2 separate regions of the Homo sapiens genome follow, and region 2 is linked to region 1. The links come from fine-mapping of genetic effects on gene expression. Tissue or cell type: whole blood. Region 1 holds a variant in brackets; the other region holds the start of a gene. All regions are shown on one strand. Distances are from middle to middle.

The links. PIP is the estimated chance that this variant, and not a neighbour inherited with it, causes the effect.
Region 2: it holds the start of NEMF, and the variant in region 1 is fine-mapped to the expression of NEMF in whole blood (INTERVAL, PIP above 0.99).

What each region holds. Positions count from the first base shown.
Region 1 is chr14:49,881,740-49,892,241 of GRCh38, forward strand. No RefSeq gene overlaps it. Among named protein-coding and RNA genes, the nearest start is that of ARF6, 6.1 kb to the right of the region's middle. RefSeq lists an enhancer at 952-1,535. The variant C/T (reference allele first, on the strand shown) is at 4,930.
Region 2 is chr14:49,847,504-49,856,669 of GRCh38, forward strand. NEMF (nuclear export mediator factor) reads right to left here and starts at 5,285. Exons shown (of 33, transcript NM_004713.6): 1 at 5,192-5,285; 2 at 4,304-4,372; 3 at 4,060-4,162. The coding sequence starts at 5,250. It also overlaps RN7SL3. RefSeq lists an enhancer at 5,292-5,531 and a silencer at 6,335-6,394.

The DNA.
Region 1 (10,502 bases):
ATCAGGAGAAAGTTACTGAAATCAATCTCTTGTCCAATCAGAGCTGTAGTTATGGCTTATGGAACAAAGTCAGTTGGTCAGCATGTGGTGGTTGTAAGCTGCAACTGCTTCAACATTGTTTATCTCAAGGCCAGTGCTTATTTAGCTGCTAGAGAAAAAGAAAAACCTTGTGGTGGTTAGGACATAGGTTATTCTTTAAGTGTAGGAGTGCATGGCTTAACACTTGCCTGGCATGGCCTTAGATCCTGTTTATAATTTGTATCTTATTATCATAAAGATAATCTGTTCTGTCAGTCTTTTTTTTTTTTTTTTTTTTTTTGAGATGGAGCTTCGCTCTTTTGCCCAGGCTGGAGTGCAATGGCGCGATCTTGGCTCACCACAACCTCCGCCTCCCAGGTTCAAGTCATTCTCTTGCCTCAGCCTCTTGTGTAGCTGGGATTACAGGCATGTGCCACCACACGTGGCTAATTTTGTATTTTTAGTAGAGACGGGGTTTCTCCATATTGGTCAGGCTGGTCTCGAACTCCCGACCTCAGGTGATCTGCCCGCCTCGGCCTCCCAAAGTGTTGGGATTACAGCCGTGAGCTACTGTGCCCTTCTGTCAGTCTTTTTGAGACAGGGTCTTGCTCTGTTACCCAGGCTGGAGTGCCAGGGCACAATCATGGCTCACTGCAGCCTCGAACTCCAGGCTCAAGTGATCCTCCACCTCACCCTTCCAAGTAGTTGGTACCACGGGTGTGCACCACCATGACCAGCTAATTTTATTTTATTTTACTTTTGTAGATGCGGAGGGTGGGAGGGTGGTCTCCCTGTGGTGTTCAAGTGAAACCCCATTGCAAAATTGGAACTGACGCAGGGAAAGAGATCTGAACCTAACCAACTCCAACTTGCTTCTAATCTCCTATCTGTCCTTGTTCATTCCTGGGCATAGGCCAAAGTAACTTTGGGAGGCACTTAGTTTTTAGTTTATGGTTTAAAGCAAAGATGATAACAGCCCTTTCCCAAAACAAACCCCTTTCTTGCCTGGAGACTAGGCTGCCTTTGTGGGACTAACAAACTAGCCAAAAGATTAAAAATTATGGTTTAGGAGTCATGCAGCTGGAGGCGATAAGATTCTGACCCTTCCCAAATTGCTCCTGGGGCTAACATCACTATTGTAAAGATTCAGATCAGTGCTTGAGATATTTTGCAAACTCTGAACTTGATGGATCAACTGGCACCACCCAGACTGATACATTGACTCATGTGATCTTGTTGCCCCCACCCAGGAACTGACTCAGCGCAAGAGGAAAGCTTCAACTCCCTTCCATTTCGTCTCCTACTTGACCAATCAGCACTCTTGACTCACTGGCTGCCCCCTCACCCACCAAGTTGTCCTTAAAAACTCCGATCCTGGGCTCGGTGGGGTGGCTCACGTCTGTAATCCCAGCACTTTGGGAGGCAGAGGCGGGCGGATCAATTTGAGACCAGCCTGGCCAACATGGCAAAAACCCATCTCTACTAAAAATACAAAAATTAGTCTGGCGTGATGGCACGCCTGTAATCCCAGTTACTCGAGAGGCTGAGGCAGGAGAATCGCTTGCCTCCCTTGCTGGGAGGCTGAGGTTGCAGTGAGATTGCACCACTGCACTCCAGCCTGGGCAACAGAGTGAGACTACCTCTCAAAAAAAACGAAAAACAAAACAACAAAAATCCTACTCTGATCCCTGAATGCTCCGGGAGACTGATTCGAATAACAATAAAACTCTGGTCTCCAGCACAGCTGGCTCTGCATGAATAACTTTCTCTATTGCCATTCCCCTGTCTTGATAAATCGGCTCTGCCTAAACAGTGGGCAAGGTGAACCCATTGGGCAGTTACACAGGCTGGTCTCTAACTCCTGGACTCAAGCAATCCTTCGCCTCGGGCTCTCAAAGTATTGGGATTACAGACATGAGGCTCTGTGCCCAACCTGTTTTGTCAATCTTATGATCTCTATTTTAACATCAATGATGGTCAGTTGTGTCTAAACTGCAACAGGGAGGGGGTACAAAGAGGCATGTCTGACCTCCTATCTCGTTATAGCTGGGAACTCAGTTTTTAAGGTTTCTTTGGGGTCCTCTTGGCCAAGAGGTGGTTCATTCAGTCAGTTGCAGGGCTTAGGATTTCATTTTTAGTTAACGTGATGAATAACAAAAGATGTGCCCCTCACATCTATCAGTCAGGAAATTCCAAGGGTCTCAGAAGTTTTGTGCAAGAAACTGGGACCAAAAATCAAATATAGATCTCTTATTAATATATCACAATATCAGAAGGAAGCAGTGGTGGGAGAGGGAACTGGACTCCTTATAGTGAAAATCCTGACTTTCCAGTAGGCCTCCTCTGATCCACCCCAGCAGGGCAGGGTACGATGCCTCCTACTGCCAAAGGGAAGTAGAAATCCAGGTTCCCCAAGTGATCTCCATTGACACCAAGAATTTAGGTGGGGCTCATTATCACCTGGTGGGGATGGACAACCCTGTTCCCTACTCAACTTGGTGAGGGGACAAGAGATTGGGGCACCTCATTAAGAGCCTGGCAAGTGCGGATGCCTAGGCTCTAAGAAAAGAAAGACAGCTACGAACAGTCTGAGCTCTGTGAGGTATGTAAAACTTATCAGGCCCAGAGACATGAGTATGGGCCTTCAGGCACCTCCCCACTCATGTCTGGGGGCATTTTTTTTTTTGAGTGTCGCTCAGGCTGGAGAGCAGTGGCACAATATCTGTTCACTGCAGCCTCAACTTCCTGGGCTCAAGCAGTCCTCCCACTTTAGCCTCCTGAGGAGCTGGGACTACAGGCATGCGCCACCACACCCAGCTAAATTTTTGTATTTTGTAAAGATGGGGTTTCACCATGTTGCCCAAGTCTCGAACTCCTGAGCTCAACTGAGCCACCACTCCAGGCTGGCGGCAATTGCTCCTGACTAGTATTTTGTTCCGGACTAGCTGCCTCACCCATTGTCTTCATGTTCCTGGAACTTGTGATACAACGAACAATGTATAGCCAATCAATAGCTTCAGTTATTTTAATGTAAATTCTTGGTAAACAATCTAGGAACTGCCTATTTCCTTCAGAAACACACTTGTGGCCGGGCACGGTGGCTCATGCCTGTAATCCCAGCGCTTTGGGAGGCCGAGGTAGGTGGATCGCTGGAGATCCGGAGTTTGAGACCAGTCTGGCCAACATAGTGAAACTCCATCTCAACTAAAAATACAAAAAAAAGTAGCCAGGTGTGGTGGCGCATGCCTGTAGTCTCAGCTACTCGGCAGGCTGAGGCAGGAGGCAGAGGTTGCAGTGGGCCGAGATCCAGCCACTGCACTCCAGCCTGAGCGACAGAGTGAGACTCCGTCTCAGGAAAAAAAAAAAAAAAAAAGAAAAGAAAGAAAGAAAGAGAAACACATTTGTAATGACTGCTAATTAGAGTATATTCAGAGCAACTTGGATCTACACTCCTCGTTTGCAGTCCTCAGACTTGGCCCAAGTACACTCTCTACTTATATTAAGATTGCCTCAGTTTTTTTCCCTTTAGGTTGATAGCTCTCCACCTGGCCTTTATTACCATTGGTGGAAGTGGGGCTACAGATTTTTCTTTGGTGTTTGGCTGACATGGTTATTTTCTAAAAGTTTTCTGCCTTTCTAGGCTTTCTTCTGGTCCTTTGGCTGTCTGTCTTCCTGCACTTTCCTCATCATTTGGCTAAAGAGAGAAGGCTTCTCTTGGAGCTTCTTTCATATTTCAAGGTTTCAACTTCTTAAGTTCCAGGTTTGGAAGATATAAGGACAAAAAAGCAGCAAGAAACTTACCACTAAGTCATTCCTTGGGTTTCCAGGTCGCTAGCCAGCCTGCCTCCTTCTCGCCAGCTGTCAAAGTCTTCTTATGCTTCTTGTATTTGTAATGCCTCGGGTTTTTAGTTGTACTTAGAAAAAGAATTGGAAAAAGTATGCCTACTCTATCTCCCTGGAAGTGAATTCTATTGTATTAATTTTATGCTTACCTTTTGTTTAGGGCAAATGATACTGGCTGAAAAACTCCAGTGACTCTGATTTTTTTTTTCTATTCCCACATTAAGACAACTATTGTTATGGTATGAGGAATACATTAAATTATTCTAAGAGCTCTATAAAGCAATTCAAGCACAGGTCAAAAGGCCAGGTCAGGCTGGGAGTGGTGGCTCACACTTGTAATCCCCCTGTAATCCTAGCAATTTGGGAGGCCAAGGTGGGTGGATTGCTTGAGCTCAGGAGTTCCAGACCAGCCTGGGCAACATGGTGAAACCCCGTCTCTGCAAAAAACACAAAGATTAGCCAGATGTGGCAGCTCACTTCTGTACTCCAAGCTACTTGGGAGGCTAAAGTGGGAGGACCTCTTCAGCTTTTGAGCCTGGGAAGCAGAGGCTGCAGTGAGCCGACTGTGCCACTGCACTCCAGCCGGGATGACACAGCCAGACACTGTCTCAAAAAAAAAAAAAAAAAAATCCAGGACTTCAGTGCTCTTTATAAACTGAATTAGATTTATCAATAGCCCACCCTACCCCTTTAATTCTAATGGTGGTCATATACATATAATTCTCTTGAAGCATTAACATCTATGACTTTGATGCATTTACTTTAAAATTTTGTTTTGCTTGCACATTGCTTTTTCTTGACATGTTTTGTAAAACTATTGCCTTTGTTTATATGTAACAGAAGCCAATTAGAGCCTGCTTTAGCAAAAAGAAAAGTAATGTGGCCGGGCACGGTGGCCCATGCCTGTAATCCTAGCACTTCGGGAGGCAGAGGTGGGTAGATCACCTGAGGGCAGGAATTCAAGACCAACCTGGCCAATATGACAAAAACCCATCTCTACTGAAAATACAAAAATTAGCCGGGCGTGGTGGCACGCGTCTATAGTCCCAGCTATTCGGGAGGCTGAGG[C/T]ACAAGAATCTCTTGAACCACGAGAATCGCTTGAACCACAAGAATCGCTTGAACCACGGGAGGCGGAAGTTGCAGTGGAGCCAAGATCGCTCCACTGCACTCCAATTGGGCCACAAAGTGAGACTGTCTCAAAAAACAAAACAAAACAAAAAAAAACCCCAAAACTAGGGTGTTTCATGAAACTCAGTGATTGGTACGCAGACAGACCCTAGTAAGGGCCTGGAGTGTCAGGAATAGTCTCTGCTTCATCTCTGCTTTCTCCACACATCTGCTTCTTTCTTTCTCCCTGAAAACTAACCTCTGTCTGCCTCCCAGTACTCAAAACAGGAATATGGCTGTGACACAGTCTCTAGTTAGTAAGATGCATCCTCTGGGAAAAGATGGACTGGCACAGTATTTCTTCAGATCTGATTCTAAATTCTTAGGAATAAAAATCCAGGCTGGGCATGGTGGCTCACACCTGTAATCCCAGCACTTTGGGAGGCCAACGCAGGTGGATCACTGGAGGCCAGGAGTTCGAGACCATCCTGGCTAACATGGTGAAACCCCATCTTTACCAAAATTACAAAAATTAGCCAGGCGTGGTGGCACGTGCCTGTAATCCCACCTACTCGGGAGGTTGAGGCATGAGAATTGCTCGAATCCAGGAGGTGGAGGCTGCAGTGAGCCGAGATTGTGCCATTGCACTCCAGCCTGGGCAACAGAGTAAGACCCTGTCTCAAAAAAAAAAAAATCCAAATAGCCAATTAGGATAATGAGTCTACCTGTGGTCCAGTTGGTATGGCCAGAGATGTACATGCTGAGGAATCCCACAGAAAATCCAGAACTGCTAGGAGTCTACTCCTGTATTTCTGTGGATGGGGGCGGCAGTTTCTAAAGACATCCTAAGAGTGTTAAACACATCCTAAGAGTGTTAAACACATTGAGTAACTTGCTCTACTCCTAGAATCTTTGATATACTGTTAAAGATTTATCCACATCAAAATTGTTATGATGTTCCAGGTCAGCCTTCTAACATAACTATGTAAATACACTGAATTCACGATTTGTTTTTCCTGTAATGTTAAAAAGATATAATAAGCAGCAGAAAGACCCATTTTTACATTTGGAAATGAAACTGCTTCAAAGGCTCTAGACTTTCCTTTTCTGGCATTAATTCAGTTAATGTGGAAAGTCGGCACACAGGGTAGTTGACCTTCATCCCATAGTGAGACAGCGGAGGAACTCTTGCCCTAATTCACCGGAGAGGGGCATAGCCCCCAATGACCCAGGTTTAAGAAACTGTAATGTTACCTCTGAAGCCAGTCTTTTTTTTTTTGAGATGGAGTCTCACTCTGTCGCCCAGGCTGGAGCGGGGTGCAGTGGCGTGATTTCAGCTCACTGCAATCTCCACCTCCTGGGTTCAAGCGATTCTCCTGCCTCAGCCTCCTGTGTAGCTGGGATTACAGGCACGCACCACCACACCCAGCTAATTTTTGTATTTTTAGTAGAGACAGGGTTTCACCATGTTGGCCAGGCTGGTCTGAAACTCCTGACCTCAGGTGATCCACCTGCCATGGCCTCCAAAGTGCTGGGATTACAGGTGTGAGCCACCACACCTGGCCTGAAGCCAGTCTTTAACTCAGCAGGTTATGCTATTTGACTATTATTTGTGGACATATAATCGATTTTATTTTTATTTTTGAGACAGAGTCTCTTTCTAACTCTACTGGAAGATAAATCTTTCTTACTTGAAATGGAAACAAACTCATAAATTGTGTCCGGCTTAATCCTTGTAAAATTGTTGTAACATTTACCTAGGATTTTACAACCATTTCCACACTCATAAATCTTGGTCATTGTGCTCAAAACTGTATCTTAAAGTAGGAGCTACTACAGACAATTATATGCTGATGGTTCAAAGGTTCTGAACAGCATAGAAGCTGCTCCATTGTTTGTTCTTGGTATATATACTATGTGTGTTTATAAAGTAAAATTTAAAAAGAGGATATGGAGCAGGAAATTTCACATGAACCTACCTGGTTATAATTTTCTAAGGAATTTTACCTTTCCAACCTAAATCTGGGTTTTGGATTAAGATATCGTTTACAACACTGCCAAGCTCTACTTTTCAATACAACTCTCTTCTTTTCTTTCCTTCCTTTTCTTCCTTTCTTCTTCTTTTTTTCTCTTCCCCATTCATTTTTTATTAATTCATTTATTCTCTCTTTGAAACAGCACTATGTAGCATCTAAAGTTATTATTATTTTTGAGACGGAGTTTCGCTCTTGTTGCCCAGGGTGGAGTGCAGTGGTGTGATCTCGGCTCACTGCAACCTCCGCCTCCTGGGTTCCAGTGATTCTCCTGCCTCAGCCTCATGAGTAGCTGGGATTACAGGCATGTGCCACCACGCCCAGCTAATTTTGTATTTTTAGGAGAGATGGGGTTCCTGTACGTTGGTCAGGATGGTCTCGAACTCCCGACCTCAGGTGATCTGCCCACCTCGGCCTCCCAAAGTGCTGGGATTAGAGGAGTGAGCCACCACGCCTGGCCTGTTATTATTTTTTGAGATGGAGTCTCGGTCTGTCACCCAGGTTGGAGTGCAATGGCGCGATCTCGGCTCACTGCAAGCTCCGCCTCCCGGGTTCACGACATTCTCCTGCCTCAGCCTCCCGAGTAGCTGGGATTACAGGAGCCTGCAACCACGCCCAGCTAATTTCTTTTTTTTTTTTTTTTGGTATTTTTAGTAGAGATGGGGTTTCACCGTGTTAGCCAGGATGGTCTCGATCTCCTGACTTCGTGATCCGCCCACCTTGGCCTCCCAAAGTGTTGGGATTACAGGCGTGAGCCACCGCACCCGGCTCTGTTTTTATTTATTTATATTTATTTGTTTTTGAGACCTAATTAAAAAATTTTTTTTGGCAGAGATTGGGTCTCGCTATGTTGCCCAGGCTGACCTTGAACTGCTGGCCTCAAGGGATCCTCCTGCCTCAGCCTCATGCATAGCTGGGATTACAGACATGAATCACTATGCCTGGCAGGATTAGCAATTTTTCTAAAGATACACTTTCTTATAACTTTATTTACACTTTATTTCTACTGCTAATAGATTTCCCAGGATTTATCCCTTCTTTAAAATAGTGTTCAATTCTGGGTAAGTCTGACCTAAGGGTTTCAAATGATAAAAGGGATAAAATCATCATCAAACAAGTGCATGGTCAGACCACCTTTGTCATGTGGTCAGAGTCATCCTTGGTACTTGATGGGATAAAAAGAAATACCTGACAGGGTCTTATGAAATGAGCGATTTTTAAGAGTTATAAGAATTCAGAAATTAGGGTAAACAGTGTGTGGTACTATTGTTAGAGAATACATTAATTCCAATTTAAAAACAGAGGGCCGGGCGCGGTGGCTCACGCCTGTGATCCCAGCACTTTGGGAGGCCAAGGCAGGTGGATCACGAGATCAGGAGTTCAAGACCAGCGTGGCCAATATGGTGAAACCCTGTCTCTACTAAAAATACAAAAATTAGCTGGGCTTGGTGGCACATGCCTGTAGTCCCAGCTGCTCAGGAGGCTGAAGCAGGATAATCACGTGAGCCCGGGAGATGGAGGTTGCAGTGGGTCCAGATTGCGCCACTGAACTCCAGCCTGGGCGACCAAGAAAGACTCCGTCTCAAAGAAAAACAACAACAAAAAAAATTAGGTCTAAGCCATTTTTTACAAGTAAACATATTTCTTATGAGATAGATATAGTATTGGCTGGGTACAGTGGCTTAGGCCTGTAATTCCAGCACTTTCGGAGGCTGAAGCAGGAGGACTGCTTGAGTCCAGGAGTTTGAGACCAGCCTGGGTTACAGTGAAGTCCTGTGTCTACAAAAAATAATGATAAATAAATGAATAAAAATTATAGTATTTTATTTATACTGTTTTAGTCAGGAATATCATAAACATAAGTGGTTGTTGAAGAGATTAAAAATTATGAAATGGCATTCTCTAGGGAAGCCTGGTTTGCGTGTAAATTCCAGAAATCTCTTCATTTACAGGCTTTGAGTCAAAAAGTAGAGAAGATTTTTCTATACTTAGCTGTTGGAGCATTCATCTGTTTAAAATTTAAGACATAACCCAGGCCAGGCCTGGTGGCTCACGCTTCTAATCCCAGCGCTTTGGGAGGCCAAGGCCTGCCCATCACTTGAGGCTTGAGGTTGAGTTCGAGACCAGCCTGGCCAATACGGTGAAACCCCGTCTCTACTAAAAATACAAAAATTGGCCCGGCGTGGTGGTGCATGTCTGTAGTCTCAGGTACTCGGGAGGCTGAGGCAGGAGAATTGCTTGAACTGGGAGGCAGAGGTTGCAGTGAGTCGAGACCGAGACCGAGCCACTGCACTTCAACCTGGGCAACACAGCAAGGCTCTGTCTCAAAAACAAAAAACAAAAACACAAAACACAAAAACATAACCCAGGTGTCTAGATAAAAATTAAAAAAGGGCTAGGCGCGGTGGCTCTTGCCTGTAATGCCAGCACTTTGGGAGGCCGAGGCGGGCAGATCACTTGGGGCCAGGAGTTCCAGACCAGTCTGGCCAACATGGCAAAACCTGTCTCTACAAAAAATAGAGAAATTAGTCAGGCGTGGTGGCGCACGCCTTTAGTCCCAGATACTGGTGAGGCTGAGGTGGGAGGATCTCTTGAGCCTAGGAGGCTGAAGCTGCAGTGAGCTGACATCGCACCACTGCACTGCAGCCTTGGTGACAGAGCGAGACCTTGTCCCAAAAATAGAGAGGTGGGGTTGGGGATGACACTTGAACCCCAATCTTCAGACTCCTAAGCTTTTCAGTTTTATGACAGTGCTTCATCTTAAGGTAAATGGAAAGTAAATGAAATAATTGTTAGAATATTAATGTTTAATAAGTTTATTTCCGACTGAAATGACGTTTATAAGGTTATCATATAACCTATCTACCATTATCTAATATTTTAAATTTGTTTAATAAAAACAGTATGTTACCATATGCTGTTTATAGCATCTTGCTTTTTAAACAAAGATACCCATTTCCTGTTTTTCTCCCCTTGATATTTGAAGGTTTCACGTTATTTTAAGTCTAATTTTATCATTAACCATTTGATACAAAAATGTGTCCTTGGCAGGGCGCAGTGGCTCACGCCTGTAATCCCAGCATTTTGGGGGGCCGAGGCGGGTGGATCACCTGAGGTCAGGACTTCGAGACCAGCCTGGCCAACATGGTGAAACCCCGTCTCTACTAAAAATACAAAAATTAGCCGGGCGTGGTGGTGGGCGACCTAATTCCAGCTGCTCCGGAGGCTAAGGCAGAACTGCTTGAACCCAGGATGAGGAGGCTGCAGTGAGCCGAGATTGTGCAACTGGACTCCAGCCTGGGCGACAGAGTGAGACCCCGTCTCAAGAAACAAACAAAAACCAAAAAACCAAAAATGTGCCCTGAAGTCTTCCACATTGTATTATTTAAGCCTCACGTGAGTTAGCAAGGTCAGTTTACACGAGATAAACTTAGTAAGGTTAAGTGCCCAGATCCAGGCCATACAAGCGGTCGTTCTATATTCTAAATTCTATGCTTCTTA
Region 2 (9,166 bases), 35 kb before region 1:
CCTTTATTTTTTTTAAGTCTCTTTGATGACACTTCTAAGTATGCCAAATTTCCCTTTTGTATGCTTCATTTATGTTCAAAATTAATTAATTGTTTCCACTAATCTTCTACTTCTAATACATATCAACTATGGACCATGAGCTTATGGCTTATGGTATCCTGTAAATAGTCCACCACCTTATATCCAGTTACCCCTACCAATTCTTTTTTTTTTTTTTTTTTTTTTTTTTTTCTTTAAGAGAGTCTTTGCCAGGAGCGGTGGCTCAGGCCTGTAATCCCAACACTTTGGGAGGCCGAGGTAGGTGGATCACTTGAGGTCAGGAGTTCAAGACCAGCCTGGCCAATATGGTGAAACCCCATCTCTACTAAAAATACAAAAATTAGCTGGGCGTGCTGGCGCATGCCTGTAATCCCAGCTACTCAGGAGGCTGAGGCAAAAGAATCGCTTGAACCCAAGAGGCGGAGGTTACAGTGAGCCGAGATGACACTACTGCAATCCAGCCTGGGCAACAGAGCAAGACTCTGTCTCAAAAAAAAAAAAAAAAAAGAAAGGGACAGAGTCTCTCTGTTGCCCAGGCAAGGCTCAAACTCCTGGACTCAAGCAATCTCCCACCTTAGCCTCCCAAGTAGCTAGGATTACAAGTGCCCTGCCACTGTGCCCAGCTTATTCCTACAAACTTTACTAATATAACCCAAAGAGAATTTTCCTGGTATCGTCTCTAAGCTTTTGATAACCTATTTCAATCCAATGTAATAACTCTCATTCTTTATTAAATCCCCTTCCTCCTATCCCTGGCCATAAGGTTCTTTTTCTTATTAACAATTAAAATAATATTAGTATATCAAATCCAAATACAATTTACTTGGCAATACCTACTCTTTTAGATTACATGTACCGTCTTTTTGTACAAATATTGAAGTATGACATGGACTGGTAACAAGACTACTCTGTAGCCTCTAAAATATCTTACAATTGTTTCTAATTTTTTAATATAAAAGACCCTTTAGTTAAGACCAATAAGAAAGAATGCTTTCTTCAAGACTCAAATACGGTCTGGGTATGGCAGCTCACGCCTGTAATCCCAGCACTCTGGGAGGCCGAGGCAGGCGGATCACAACGTCAGGAGTTCAAGACCAGCCTGGCCAACATGGTGAAACCCCATCTCTACTAAAAATACAAAAATTAGCCAGGCATGGTGGCGTGTGCCTGTAATCCCAGCTACTTGGGAGGCTGAGACACGAGAATCACTTGAACCCAGGAGACTGAAGTTGCAGTGAGCCAAGACTGCGCCACTGCCCTCCAGCCTGGTGACAGAGCAAGACTCCGTCTCAAAAAAAAAAAAAAAAAAAAAGACTTAAATACGAAACAAATTTTACAGAAGTTAATCTAAGACCACCTTCAAAAAAAAGACAAAAAATCCACTCCTTGACAAAGGTTGAAAAAAAACAACAATAAACACATAAATTCATTATTAAAATTAATGCTAACATTTTCATAACTAAGAAGAGTTCTTCTCCAGACCTTATAGCCCAAATTGACTGAAATTCGCATTTTATATACTCACATAGGCAGAATAACTTCCTAGGATAAACAATCTGCTCCTCCTTAACTCAGTAGTTTTAAGAATGACCTATACTGATTTGATTAAACAGTAACCTACATGTAGGGCTATCTTTAAATCCCTAGAGGAAAATCACAATCAGTTCTTCCAGAGTCCCTGAGTAATAATTTTATTCAAGAAAAATAAAGACAAAAGGCATCATTGAAAGGACAGAAGTTCACACAAAGGAATAGTAAAAAGGGGATTATTTATCATGGAGAGTACAGATGGACACATAGTACATATTTAAAGCTTGTTTCATTTCCCTATCAACAGCTTGGTGAAATCAACCTGCTGCTGTGTGCCACAAAGCTATAGCTGTCATCCCCAAATGTGAATACTGGAACAACCACTGTGATTTATCACATAATAGACATAACTCTGCCTGTGCCATGCAACAGTAACAGCTCTTTGATTTATAAAGTGCTTAACATTGTCTGCTCCATTGAGGAAATCTTTCTATACATTTAGATTGACACGTACACCTAACCCATAGAATTCTAAGTATTTTTTAAAGTGACTGACCTATTAGTGTAGTCTGATTTGGAGATGTTTACACAATCCCAGTGTCCTATTTCATTGGCCTGTTACCTCATCCATAAAACTGAAATTGTATTTGTTCTTCACAGTCCACTGAGTTGCTAAACAACTTAAATGAAATACATATTATTCATCTGCCTTAAAAAGTGCTACACAACAGGTAGCATTATTATTGTCATTATTATTAAGGACAGGCCCCAAAAGAACTATTTTGGGTTACTATTAAATAAATTAAACTTTAATAATCTGAGAATTTTGTGAAAGCCCTTGTGATATGGAAACACTTACCTAATTTGTAATCCAAAACAGACTCTAAATTGCTGGGGGGTAAAGCTCTTCTCTGTAAAGCCTCTAATGAAATAACTCAATGCCATAACAGATACATTGCCAAAGTAAGGAGCGGAGCAGGAAGGAAATGAACATGTATGGAGTTCTAATATGTGTCAGGTATTGTTTCAGGTGCCTTTCTTTTTTTTTTAGATGGAGTCTCGCTCTGTCGCCCAGGCTGGAGTGAAACAGTGCGAACTCAGCTGACTGCAATCTCTATCTCCCAGGTTCAAGTGGTTCTCCTGCCCCATCCTCCCAAGTAGCTGGAATTACAGGTGTGTGCCACCACGCCTGGCTAGTAGAGACAGGGTTTCACCATGTTGGCTGGGCTGGCCTTGAACTTCTGACCTCAAGTGATCCACCTGCCTCAGCCTCCCAAAGTGTTGGAATTACAGGCATGAGCCACCGCACCTGGTCTGTTTTAGGTGTTTTATATATCATTTCAATTAATCCAATAATTTCATGAAGGAGGTACTATCCACATTTTACATTTAAAGAAACTAAATTCCAAGAGGTTAAGTAACTTTTCCAGGTTATAAAATTACTTTCTGACAAAGCTATTAATTCAAAGTTAAGTATATGTGACTCGAAAGTCTCGTGTACCACATGAATTTTCAATCTATATGTTACATCAATAAAAGAATGGGTAGCATGCCCACCCATGTAAAAATCTGTTTTAATAGTAAAAACAAAACAGAAAAATAAAAAGACTTAGTAACATATTAATGTCAGTGAGTATTCCAAAAAAAAAAAAATACTGACTGGGTACAGAGGAATACGACTCACAAAAGTGAGCTCTGGAAGATAAGACTAGGAAAAAAAGGTGGGGCAGGGAGGAGAAAGAACACAGAAAGCCAAGAATGTTAGGCTATAGAATATGGATTTAGAAATCAGGAAACCATAAAAGGTGAGGTAACTAATGAAAATTATACTTTAAAAAAATTAATGTTGGGCCAGGCGCGGTGGCTCATGCCTGTAATCCCAGCACTTCAGGAGGCTGAGGCTGGCGGATCACCTGAGGTCACGCATTTGAGATCAGACTGGCCAACATGGTGAAACCCCATCTCTACTAAAAATAGAGAAATTAGCCGGGTCTGGTGGCACACGCCTGTAATCCCAGCTACTGAGGAGGCTGAGGCAAGAGAATCACTTGAACCTGGGAGGCAGAGGTTGCAGTGAGCCAAGACTGTGCCACTGCACTCCAGCCTGGGTGACAGAGCGAGACTCCTTCTCAAAAACGAACAAAAAAACAAACAAACAAAAACAAAAAAATTAACGTTGGTCTAATTTAGAATTGTTTTGATGCAGAGAAGTGAATTACAGTTAAGGAACTGTAAGGCTGAATGTGATAAAAGCTTGAACTCTAATAGTGACTGTGGAAACAGAAGATCTGGAGCAGAACAGGATGTGAAAGGTAATGGGGAGAAATCAATTAATAAATATTCACTTTATTCAACCCATTATCTGTCAACCACTCCCTTTACCTTCATTTTATCTGCACTTTATTCGTAACAGTGAAGGAAACCCCAATTAAAAACTTAATTGTTAGTGAGCAATCTCTTAAAATTTAGCTTCAAGCGTAACAAGTTTACCTTCATGGCAAAACTAGACGGCATCATATTCTTAGGCCACTCAAATTCTGTTGTATGAATTCGTATGCCAGATTCAAGTAAAAGTGTAGCTTTAAAGTCCGGTCTGTAGAAGAAAAAAGTCGAATTTTTCTTTAGGGTATATGCCAAAGCTAATTGCTAAACAGGCTTAAAATGTAGGTTAAAAAAAATCAGTAATCTCATACTTAATTGTCAAAGAGAAAATAAGCCTATAAAATGTTCTTACTTTTGAAGACGAATAAGGTATGTCTTATTATCCACATCATAAACATTGTTTACTCTCATTCCTAGCAAGCTGCAAAGATAAAGGAAACATGTAACATGTTACACTATTGTCTGAAACATAAAACTACACATAATTTAATAAAAGCTTCGAAAGAGCGGATCTCAGTCTCTAAGGATATGGAGTCAGCCGAGGAGCAGAGTCTGAAAGCCATTTGGAGATTCAGTTCAAAACTTAAGAGTAACGATTTAAAAACAGAAGTGGTCTATCAGCTCTAGGAACAACACACTATAGCTTGCGTCTTCCAAATGACCCAATTTTGGGGGAGAAATACAGTAAAATATAATCCAATTAATTTATTACAAGGGAGAAAAAAAAAAGATAAAAGAGGGCCCCGAAAATATGACAAAGCTCACAGGGCTGAATAATAGAATCCAGACTAGAATCCAGATCTCAGTCCAAATCTGCTCAATCCAGCTAAAACCGCGATGCTCTCTCTCTCTCTGGGGTGAGGGGAGGGAGGTGTTCAAGAAACCAAGCCCCCAGTCTGGAAACCTCTGAAGCAAACGACCACTCTGGCGTCTCGTGTTTTAACAAACGTTTCCTGCCCAACCCGGACAACCCAGGCCAACAATGCAAGAGCTTCGCGCTAGCGGGGCAAGCCAGAGAGCTGGGAGGACGCGGGGGATGGGGCACGAGGTGCCTGGGACCCCCAGGGGTATCCTAAGGGTCACGGGAAAGACACCACACGCCTGCCCACTCAGGCCTAGGCAGGTCCATAGACGCACTAGGAAATAAGGAAACATATCAAGCTGGTCTGTTTGCGCCATGGGACTCCGGCCTCTGCCTCCTGCACTCCCCACACGAGCCTCGTCACTTAGGGTACTGTACCTAGCATTCAGCTCCGCGAGTACGGCGCGGAGGTCAATGGTGCTAAAGCGGCTCTTCATGGCGAGGCCCGAGGGTCACTACCGCAAGTTCCTCTACTGCCCGGCCGGACTCGACGCCACTTCTCCTCCGCGCAGGCGCACTTGGCGGAGCTCTACGGCCGCGCAGAAGACCCAATATTCCTCGAGGCGAACGTATTTGTGTCGCTTTTCTGAAGATTTCGATTGTCAAGTTGCAGCTGACTCTCTTCATTGTACCAAAATTCAAATTCGAATAAAGATTCAAACTGTTCTCTTGAAACTGCATTCCTTCCTGGAACCCTTACGGACCAGTCTGGTTACCGTGCCCCATTGTGTCTTGGGCTCAAGTCAGCCTTCATAGTGACCCCTGCTGGTCGAAACAATTTTCGAGATGATTATCAGGAGTATTTCCCCACAGGGGGGCCGTAGGGCTCAGTGTAGAAGAGCAAGGACCCCTTTCTGCGCGCTTACTTTGACATAAGATTTTGAAATGTAACGAAACGGAACTGCTTCGGTCCTTCTAAGATTATCCTCAACGATCGAGGCGAACTCTCAAAACGGAGTTCCTATTTTGATGGGTCCTGCTCTCGGAAGGAGCATTCTGCAATTGATTACAGGATTCTCATCGAACCTCGGTCTTGGTACCCCTGAGACTCACCGCAGTACCTGGTGTACAATCGGTGCTCCATAAACACTTGGCAGCATGAATGTGCAAGTGTTTAGCTAGATAATGGTGAAATAAGATAAAAATAAAAACAAGAAGATTCCCAATGGGGGTGGGGTGGGAGGGGGGATTCACAGTGTAGTGAGGAAAATAGTCCTGTAAGAATGTAAATTCTGCATTTCTTTTGTCTTAGGATAGATGCATGGGAAGAAAGGCTACTTTATAAGGTGAGAACTCAAAAGAGGCAGGGTCTCACTATGTTGCCCAGGCTGGAGTGCAGTGGCTATTCACAGGCGCAATCCCACTACTGATCAGCACGGGAGTTTTGACCTGCTCCGTTTCCGACCTGGGCCGGTTCACCCCTCCTTAGGCAACCTGGTGGTCCCCCGCTCCCGGGAGGTCACCATATTGATGCCGAACTCAGTGCGGACACCCGATCGGCATAGCGCACTACAGCCCAGAACTCCTGAACTCAAGGGATCCTCCAGCCTCAGCCTCCCGAGTAGCTGGGACTACAGGCACGCGCCACCGCGCCCGGCGCTCGGCGTCGCTGCAAAAGAGCTGCTAGAGGCTTGCAGGCTACACATGGTAGCAACCAGAATTCCTACCACCAGAAGGCGACTCTAAACAGAAAGGGCGCCGCTGCTATTTCAGAACTGGTACCAGTAGATGCAAAAATGGCTATAGCACATACTGCACAGCATTACTGTCATACGGTACAGTAAACCATACAGAATGGCCCAAAATATGAAAGCATTGGGGAGAAGGTGGAGAACAGGGAACTTTTGTATGCTGTTGATGGGAATGTAAATTAGTAGAGCCATTGTGCAAAACAGTATAAAGGCTCCTCACAAAATTAAGAATAGAATTACCATGTGATCTAGCAACAACATCACTATCCTGAAGATATATGTTCATGTTCATTGCAGCATTATTCACAATAGCCAAGATATAGGGATAATCTACTTTTCATCAATGGATGAACGGATAATGAGTGCAAATATATATGTACACACACACACACACACACATACATACATACAGTGGAATATTATTCAGCTTTCAAAAAAGAAATAAATCTTGCTGTTTGCAACTGGCATGGATTTAACAACATGGATGAACCTGGAGGACATTATGCTAAGTGAAATAAGCCAGACATAAAAAGACAAATACTGCATGATCTCACTTATACGTGGAATCTAGAAGTTTCTCATAGAAACAGACAGCAGAAATGTGGTTTCCAGGACTTGGGATGTAGGGGAAATGGGAAGATACTGGTCAAAATGCACAAACTTTCGGTTGTAAGTAGAGTAAGTTATGGAGACTTAATGTACAACATGCTGATTATAGTTCATAGTAATGTATTGTATGCTTGAAATTTGCATGGGAACAGAAAACCAAATACCGTATGTTCTCACTTATAAATGGGAGCTGAATGATGAGAACACATGGACCCATGGAGGGGAACAGCACACACTGGCGCTTATCAGAGGGTGGAGAATGGGAGGAGGGAGAGGGTCAGCAAAAATAACTAATGGGTACTAGGTTTAATACCTGGGTGATGAAATAACCTGTAAAACAAACCCCATGACACAAATTTACCTATATAACAAACCTGCACATATACCCCATGAACTTAAAATAAAAGTTAAATTAAAATAAAAAACAGAAATTTGCTAAGAAAGTGGATATCAAATACACACATACAAAGTGTGAGGTTATGGATGTGTTAATTGGCTTGATTGTAGTAATCATCTCACAGTGTATACATACATCAAAACATCACATGGCTGGGCCGGGTTGCTCACACCTATAATTCCAACACCTTGGGAGGCCAAGGCTGGCAGATGGCCTGAGCCCAGAAGACCAGCCCGGACAACATAGTGAGGCCCCCTCACCAATCTCTACAAAAAAATAAAAAAATTAGCCAGGTGTGATGGCATGTACCTATGGTCCCAGCTACATGGGAGGCTGAGGCAGGAGGATCCCTTCAGCCCAGGAGGTCAAGGCATGGTGGCCATAATTGTGCCACCACACTCCAGCAGGAGCTTCAGAGTAACACCCTGTCTAATAAAAAAAAAAAAAAAAAAAAAAAAAAAAAATTGGCCGGCTGCAGTGGCTCACGCCTGTAATCCCAGCACTTTGGGAGGCCAAGGTGGGTGTATAACCTGAGGTTGGGAGTTCAAGATCAGCCTGGTCAACATGCTGAAACCCTGTCTCTACTAAAAATACAAAAATTAGCCGGGCGTGGTGGCAGGCATCTGTAATCCCAGCTACTTGGGAGGCTAAGGCAGGAGAATCACTTGAACCCAGGAGGTGGAGGTTGCAAAGAGCCGAGACTGTGCCATTGTACTCTAGCCTGGGCAACAAGAGGGAAACCCTGTCTCAAAAAATATATATATATATAATATTTATATATATAGATATATGTATAATATATTTATATAATATGTATAATATATTTATATAATATTTATATAATATGTATAATATATTTATATAATATATAACATATTTATATATATATACACACCTCAAATATATGCAAATTTTATTTGTTCCCATAATTCATTTTACACTACTATAACAGAACACCACAAACTAAGTAATTTATAAAGAACATAAATTTAATGCCTCACAGTCCTGGAGACTAGGAAGTCCAAGATCAAAGGACTGGCATCTTGAAAGGGCTTTCTTGGTGTTACATCCCATGGTGGAAGAGCAACGAGAGAATGAGAGAGACAAGAGGACCAAACTCATCCTTTTATAAGGAAACCATTCCCATTTCTTTTTTCAGTAGCCCGAAACTGAGCCCCAGGCACTGTCTTATATAAAATATTTTAGTCTCTTATAAGCTTAGCATTAACCATCACTATGTTTGGCCTCATCAATAGATGTCTGGAATCTAGAATGAGAGATGGGATTTTTCAGTCCTATGCTTAGAGAGTAAATCAGAGATAGAATACATTGTTGTGTACTGGGGAATCATATTTTCCCAGAAAGACATACAAATGGAACAAACAGAATAGTGGAATTCAATTGAAACCATGTAATACAAAAAATAGTTGTGGTTCTTCTGGGTAAAAATAATGCTAAATTTGTTATTTATAACCCCAAGGGTTAAAGAAAGTACTAATGAAAAAATTTTAGGGCAATGGATTAAATCTTAACATAAGGAAGAACTTTCCGGTAGTAAAGACCGTTCAAATATTATTTAGAGATATATTCAGGCACTAAAAACCATTAAGAATAACAAGAGAATGCCACGAAGTCAGAATAGTGGTTATTTCTAAG